Linked DNA regions of Homo sapiens. The protein of the gene in region 2 purifies or fractionates together with the protein of the main gene of each other region. This does not show direct contact. Each region holds a gene or a part of one and is shown on either strand. Other genes may lie near its edges.

Evidence for each region. The genes of interacting proteins can lie anywhere in the genome.
Region 1: the proteins of SLX4IP (region 2) and AJUBA purify together in Homo sapiens (affinity purification with mass spectrometry; 2 studies listed by BioGRID and IntAct, with this or other methods). This does not show direct contact.

What each region holds. Positions count from the first base shown.
Region 1 is NC_000014.9:22,976,034-22,979,685, reverse strand, and holds part of AJUBA (LIM domain-containing protein ajuba), read left to right. Parts: intron 1-464; exon of another isoform or gene 465-649; coding exon of another isoform or gene 650-753; exon of another isoform or gene 754-1,079; intron 1,080-1,240; coding exon 1,241-1,342; intron 1,343-1,584; exon of another isoform or gene 1,585-1,859; intron 1,860-2,843; exon of another isoform or gene 2,844-2,973; coding exon 2,974-3,041; intron 3,042-3,167; coding exon 3,168-3,230; intron 3,231-3,652.
Region 2 is NC_000020.11:10,620,158-10,623,809, forward strand, and holds part of SLX4IP (protein SLX4IP), read left to right. Parts: intron 1-1,156; coding exon 1,157-1,257; intron 1,258-2,501; coding exon 2,502-3,222; 3' UTR 3,223-3,652.

The DNA of each region.
Region 1 (3,652 bases), on a different chromosome or scaffold from region 2:
CTCCGACAGGACCCCCTGGCATGGCAATCTTGGGGCAGATCTTCACTTCCATGAGGAAGCCACATTTTGAATTCAGAGATGGGGGCCCCTTCTCCTTGGGAGTCAGGTTGCCTCCTTTGACAGAACCCCTACATACCCCTTGTGCCGCTAGCCCCAGCTTGACTGTACCCTCCTCCTGCCCCTAGTAGGGGCCCTCTTCCTTGGCTTCAGCCTTGCCCAGCTGCCAGAGGGTGGGAGCAGGACAGGCCTGGGCCCATCAGTTGCTGCAGCTGCTGCACAGGCTCCCAAGCCCCTGGGCAAAGACTGGGATGGGCCCCAACAGGCAGGGAGTGTGGCAGCGTGCCGAGGGGGAGAGGTGGGGCAGGCCCGTTGGGATCTGCTCCCCAAAGACAGGCCCTAGCCCTCACTCATGGGCCTGGAATTGGGGAGTGGAGGGAGGGAAGAACACACCCAGGAAAGGCAAGTCCCAGAGCCAGGTGTATATATCTTAGTGGGGGATTTTGGGGAATAGCAAGCAGTTCAGTTCTGTATTCTTCCCATGATAGAAGGTGACTAGGAGGCATCAGGGGCTCTGCTACTCTCCCTGCTTTCCTGTTCAACCCTGGTTCCTGGAACACACCCTGCATTCTCAGCAGCCACCTCCCCACAGGAATCATGCTCACATGGTCCCCTCTGCACGGAGCCCTCTGCCAAGCCAGATCCTTTTCTCCATCCTTGGAAGTCTGCAGTGGAGAGAAATCATTCTATAACTGAACAGCTCGTTTGACTGATGGGAAACTGAAGTCCCAGAGACGATTTCTGGGCCTAGCCTGCTTTCTCTAGAAAGTATTTTCAAGTCTGCTGCTGAGCACCTGTGGACTGGCATCTTTGACCGTTCATCCTACACACTGCAACAGAGATCATACCTTGCCTGTGTAGTCTTTTCTCCCCAACAGAAACTAAGCATCTGAATGCCAGGGACCATATCTTCGACTTTCTCCAGGTTTCCTTAGGTAGTGGTGCTGTGTTAAGCACAAAACAGATGCTCAGAAAATATCTGTTGAGTAATTAAATAAACAAGAATGGATCTGCTCAGCCAAGATCTTGCTGCATCTCATTACTCGTTATCTTCTCTACTCAGAAGGGAGCCCATCAAAGGGAGACTGTGACCCCTGGCACATCAGGAAAGGGCAGTCAGGAAAGCTTGGGAATCCCTGGTTTTGACCTGGGGGAGTAGAGTGTGACACTTTTCTCTTCTCAGGCACCTGTATCAAGTGCAACAAAGGCATCTATGGGCAGAGCAATGCCTGCCAGGCCCTGGACAGCCTCTACCACACCCAGTGCTTTGTTTGCTGCTCTTGTGGTGAGTGTAGCCCCAATACTCAAGCACTCCCCTCCCCTGCCCACATACACACTTACAAGTGCTATGGGGAACAGGAGGAGAGCTTGTGCCTCTTCATTTGCTCACAGAGCAGCTGTTGGATCCCCACCAAGTGTCTGGAGGTCCGCAGCTGCTCTGCCTCTCTTGCTTCCCTGTCTGTCCTCTACTTGGCTCTCCCTCCGCCTGGTGGGTCCCCTTTCTGGAGTCCCTCCTTCCTTCCTCACCTCTGTTTCTCCCTCTCGTGCTTCCCTGCTTGCCCATCCTGGACTTGCCTGGCCCTCCAGCTTCTTGGTGGGGCTTGGTCTTGGGCAGCCAAGTTGCCTGGGGCGACAGTGAAAGACTGGAATGTGGGGAGGGTGGGGGCAGGCTGGGGGAGTGGGGAGCTGTTTGGGGCGGAGAGGGGGGTTTTCTCTTGGCTGGTCAGAGTTCAGCCACCTCACTGGAGTGCAGGCCACCGGGCCATGCCAAGCTGATGACATCACGCTCCAGGAATGCCTGCCACTGTTAGCTCAGGAGGCCCACTTGGAAAGGGGGGATGCTCCCAGCGGCCTTAACTGCCCCCCTCCCCTCCCTCATTACCCCCTCCTTACTGCTTACCCATTCTGATTCCTTTGCTAAACCTTTAATCTCCTATCTCTGCCTGTCTGACTTCAGCACTCAGCTTTTCTCACTCCCCCAGTTTCTGCCTGGTTCTCTTTAGGCTCATCTGTCTGTCTATCCTTCTGTTTACAGGGCCTCTTCTGGCTATATCTCTTTCCCTATCTTTCCTCCCCTGTGTCTCATGAGCTTCTAAGTCAGCTTTCCTAACCCACTGGACAGAGTTGGAAGTAGGGATTTTGAGGGGAAGAAGGCAAAGGTGGGAAAATTGCTCATGCTCCACCTGTTCTCACTCCTTCCCTATCCCTGATAATGTAGACACCTGGGAGCAGTTCCTGGGGGTTGGTCACATGGGGAATTGTCCTGCCTTGTCTGCTGGAAGAAGATCCTGGGTTGTCTCTTACCCCAGTGACTCTGGGTCCCTCTAAGCTTAGGGAAGCAGCCTTATACAAACAGGAGAGGGGACCTGCTTTGCTTCCAAACAAAGCACTTTGTCCTTCTGCAGTAACTCCAGTCCTGACCTCCATGGAGTCTGTCCCTGGAAGGAGACAGGCATTTGAGAGCAGGATAGATATGCTCAGGCAAAGAGGCTTCTAGGTTGAAGGGTCCCAGAGGGAAAGGCCTGTTAACAATGTGGTTCTCTCTATGCAAATCATATAGCACCTTATTAAGAGCTCACGTATTCCAGCACGTAGTTGGCTTTACTCTCCCAGGTGGCTTCCTATGCACTGGAGAGGAAGGCAGTTTGTTTAGGGGAGGGGCCCTAGAAAACTGTTAAGGAGGCAGGAGCTGGAGGAGCAGCAAGCAGAGGAGAGGGGAAGTTGGCTGGAATGAAGCCAAAGCAAATTGGAATTGCATCAGATGGAATTTTTGTGCGGGGAAGGACAGACAGCAGTTAGGAGGAAAAGCACAAAGTCCAGGTTTAAATATATTATGCAGCAGCGGGGAGCAGTGACCCCAGAAGTCTTGCACCTGGGCTGTGGGATAGGTTCCAGCCCCTTCTCTATTGTTTCTAGGGCGAACTTTGCGTTGCAAGGCTTTCTACAGTGTCAATGGCTCTGTGTACTGTGAGGAAGATTATCTGGTGAGTAAGGGTCACCTGGACCTGGAATTGGTTTCCATACTGACCCCCTTCTTGGTGGCCCATTGGAGTACCACCCATCATTCTCAGTTTGATAACAGCCTCCGTTCGTCTTGTCTTTTACTTTAGTTTTCAGGGTTTCAGGAGGCAGCTGAGAAATGCTGTGTCTGTGGTCACTTGATTTTGGAGAAGGTAAGTAAAGTGCTTTCAGCTGAGAAGTCTCACTGTGAGGCTGAGGAGCGGGATCAGGGACTAAATGGATATTGAGAGAAGGTTGGGGAAAGAAGCCTGTCACCAGATGAATCACTTTCATCCCATTCCTCCCCAGAGCAACTGTTTACAGTGGCTTCCCTCTGCCTATGGGATCAAGTCTGGGCTCAAAAGCCTGTCAACCCAGGCTTCTATGACCTAGCCCCTCCCTAACTCTGCAGGCACAGCCAGGCCTTCCAGCCTGAGCTAGGAGTGTGGGGTCCTGAGTCTTTTTTTTTTTTTTTTTTTTGAGACAGAGTCTCGCTCTGACAAAGTGGAATGATCTCGGCTCACTGCAACCTCCGCCTCCCAGGTTCAAGTGATTCTAGTGCCTCAGCCTCCCAAGTAGCTAGGACTACAGGCAT
Region 2 (3,652 bases):
ACTGACAACTTACTAAAGCTGTTTCTGGTGGTAGCAACATTTTATTGGAATTTGATGGAGAAGAATACTTAGTTTCTCAGAAAATATGAGGAGTTAACACCTTGTATGGATTATCTACTTGATAACCAAAAGGAGAAGAGATTCCAAAAGCATGAAATGGGTTAATGTTGGCAAGGTAGGTAGGCTTTTACATTTTATAATTACTTCCTTATGATGCTTCCATGGGAACACAAAAGGCTAGATAGGCAGATAATCTATGAATTATATAAAACCAGAGTGGTGGTTAGTATAAGGAAAAAAGTCCCGAATTTTTTGGTAGCCAAGAATCACAAACTACAGTTTTCAAAATACCAATATTAAAAGATTTGACTGTTGCTATGGTCTTGGGTGTGATAAAATATTCTTTTTTTTTTTGAGACAGAGTCTCGCTCTGTTGCCCAGGCTGGAGTGCAGTGGTGCCATCTCGGCTCACTGCAAGCTCCGCCTCCCGGGTTCACGCCATTCTCCTGCCTCAACCTCCCAAGTAGCTGGGACTACAGGCATCTGCCACCACGTCCCGCTAGTTTTTTTTGTATTTTTAGTAGAGACGGGGTTTCACCGTGTTAGCCAGGATGGTCTCGATCTCCTGACCTCGTGATCTGGCTGCCTCGGCCTCCCAAAGTGCTGGGATTACAGGCGTGAGCCACTGCACCCGGCCACAAAATATTCTTTGTTTTTGCAGATAGAGAAAATATGGGGAATTCTTAGGATGATAAGGGTGTAGACCACTGTGTCACCAGGTCTTGCTAGAAGAACAGAGCTCACAGGCACGTTGCCCCACACAGTAGGATTCTGGGGCTTTTGTCACAGCCTGAGCCTCACAGATACCAGATATTGGCCAAGAGTTCCCAGATGGTTTGGAATCAACATTATTTGCCTTACAGTTTTGTATGTTTATGACGCATGTTAATGTATGAAATGTGGACTGGGAGTCCAAAAGAAGTTACAATTAACCATAAAGTCCTAGGTAAAAAAGGTTAAAATAGCTTACCACTGAGCAGTTTCATTCAGTCTTTACAAAAATAAATGTGTTCATTGGGGCATTCAGAGTGTAACTGTTTTCTCTCATGTTCAGCTAATAGATTTCTGGTTGAACCTTTGTTATCTTTTGGAGTAGACAGAAAGAGTTCTCCATGGAGTGTCTGATTACTTTGCTGAGTGTGCAGAGAGTTCACTTCCTCCCAGTGCAAAGCTCCGGAGAAATGCTCTGAAAGAAATGTAGGTGCAATGTGTTTCCTTTTTCTCATTTTTGCCTGTCTCTATGTATGGATAGATAACATGAAGTCCAGAATTAAACAGAGTGCCTGGAACTGAAGCACAAACTCCCCTCCGTCACGTACTTACTCTCCCCTCCCTCCTGACTCTCTTGCTTTCTGGACAATAGGGATAGAATCCTTGCTTCACAGGTGTGTTGCAAGGAGTAATTAATGACACGTTCTTTGAAGATGAAAAGCACCTGTTGGTGGTGTGTTTCATACCACTTTCGGAGGGACTACAGACAGATCTAGAAAAAAAAAAATTCCTTTCCTAGGATCCTTGTTCCGACTTTAATATAATTACGATAATCCTCATGCTCCTGGTGTCAACAGTAAGAACATGAATATTACATGTATTTGTTTTCACACTGAAGCTAGCCGAAATAAATATTTCAGCTTTCAATGTTTTGGTGGTTGAGGAAATTTCTTGCCATTCACAAACCTGTAAATATATGCTGAAGTTAACATCTTTAGTCTCTAATTCTCCCTGTGCAGCTTCTATCCTGCCCCTCAAAGTTCACTTTATCATCAGAGTGAAGTTACATTGTCTGTTGTGCACGCTGTAAGGAGCAAGGGGCTTATATACAGCTATATCGACACTCTTTTGTCTTCCACGATTGTATTTTATTGCCTTTCATGCTGACTATCTGAAATTTCTTCCAGGACATTTCAAATTATATTAACTAAGTCCTACTCCCATTTGTTGATCAAGTTTGGTCAACAAACCTGATACCAGCTAAATGGTGGTTATATTTGGGTAACATCTTGAAATAGCCTGAGAGAAATTCCAGAAGATTTTTCTTTACTCACAAGTAGAAATTGTGTGTATGTGTACATTTGTGTACACAGAGCCTGAGTCTACTCCTGGAAAAAAAAAATCAGTATATAGGCAGTACTGACCCTTAACATTGGAAATGAATACCTATTTACCTTAGTTAAAATGTGAACGCCATCATAAATCCATTTTTAACCCAATGATTGATAAGCAGTATCATGTATAATGGAATATGTGAAGGTTTTTGCTTGATTCAGTCTGCATTTAAACATACACCTGTGGTGGGGAGTGTTTCCAGATTTGCTGGGGAAGCGAGAGGGCAGGTAGTGCCTGCCTCCTTTTTCAGGTGTAGGAAATGTGGTAGAGGGAATCTGGAGGAAACAGTGCAGTGACAGCTTTACAAACCATAAAATCATTTTTGTTTGTTTCAGTGTGAAAAGAACTGAAACAAAAAGCAGTGTCACGAGCAAATCGCAGACCAGAAGAGACACTGTGGAAACATCTAGTGACTCAGTGATTGCAGAGATAGCAAGGAGGAGGAATGATGGTCAGGCTTCCTCCAGTCCCCCATCAGAATCCATGGGACAAGCAAAGGATTCCATAAAGGCAGCTGAGAGCCACTGGGGGCTTCCTGTTCAAAAGCTGGAAAAAGTTAATCAGACCCAGCCAGAAGACACTAGTGGCCAGCAAAAACCTCATCCTGGGGAGCGGTTAAAGACAGGGCTTCTAAGCAGGAGCCCCGTCTGTAGCTGTGAGTCAGCATCACCATGTCCAAAACAAAGTCCACGAGTGGCCAAAACCCAACAGAAACGCAGGAACTGCAGCTCTGCGGAAGACTTCGACCACCACGGGAGAGTTTCTCTTGGAAGTGATCGATTAGTCCCGAGAGAAATAATAGTGGAAAAAAGCAAAGCTGTCAGGGTTTTGCCAGCTTCAGAGTTGTCAGATCCAGGGTTACTTTTGAAACAAGATTTGGCAAAAACCACGTCTAAGGAAGAGTTGCATGTTTTGGAAAGTCTCTCCTCCAGACATCTTATGAAAAATAACCCAGGGCAGGCACAGCAAACCGGCTTAGCCACAAACACTGAAAGATTATCTACAATTCAGAACAGCCCAACCAAGAAAAGAAAGAAATACGAAAGAGGCCATTAACACCGAAGAGGTTTGTACCGTTGGAGTTGAGGACATAGTGGCCAAACCTGTGACAAGAGAGCTGCGAATATAGATGCCGGGATTTTAAAGGAATTAATTAGAATGACTAATTTAAATAGGAAGTGTGTTATCTGTGTTATGGCTATGGTTTGTTTTCAAAGCATTTCAAACCGGGAGGCTATATGCTTGTTCTAACAGCGTTGCTTCTTTATCATTGTATTTTATGACTGTCTTCAGAGAATTAGTAATGACAAAGAGCCATCCACCTTGTCAGGGAGGAGACTGTGCAAGGACTGCATGAAGAAACTGATCATGAGCCCCTTCTTGGCACATCACTGTGCAGACCACACAATGGACCGTGCAAAGACAGTGCTGCCGTGCTGCCTTTCAGCTCCAGGGGTACAATCCATCCCCCTGCTCCTCAGCCTGA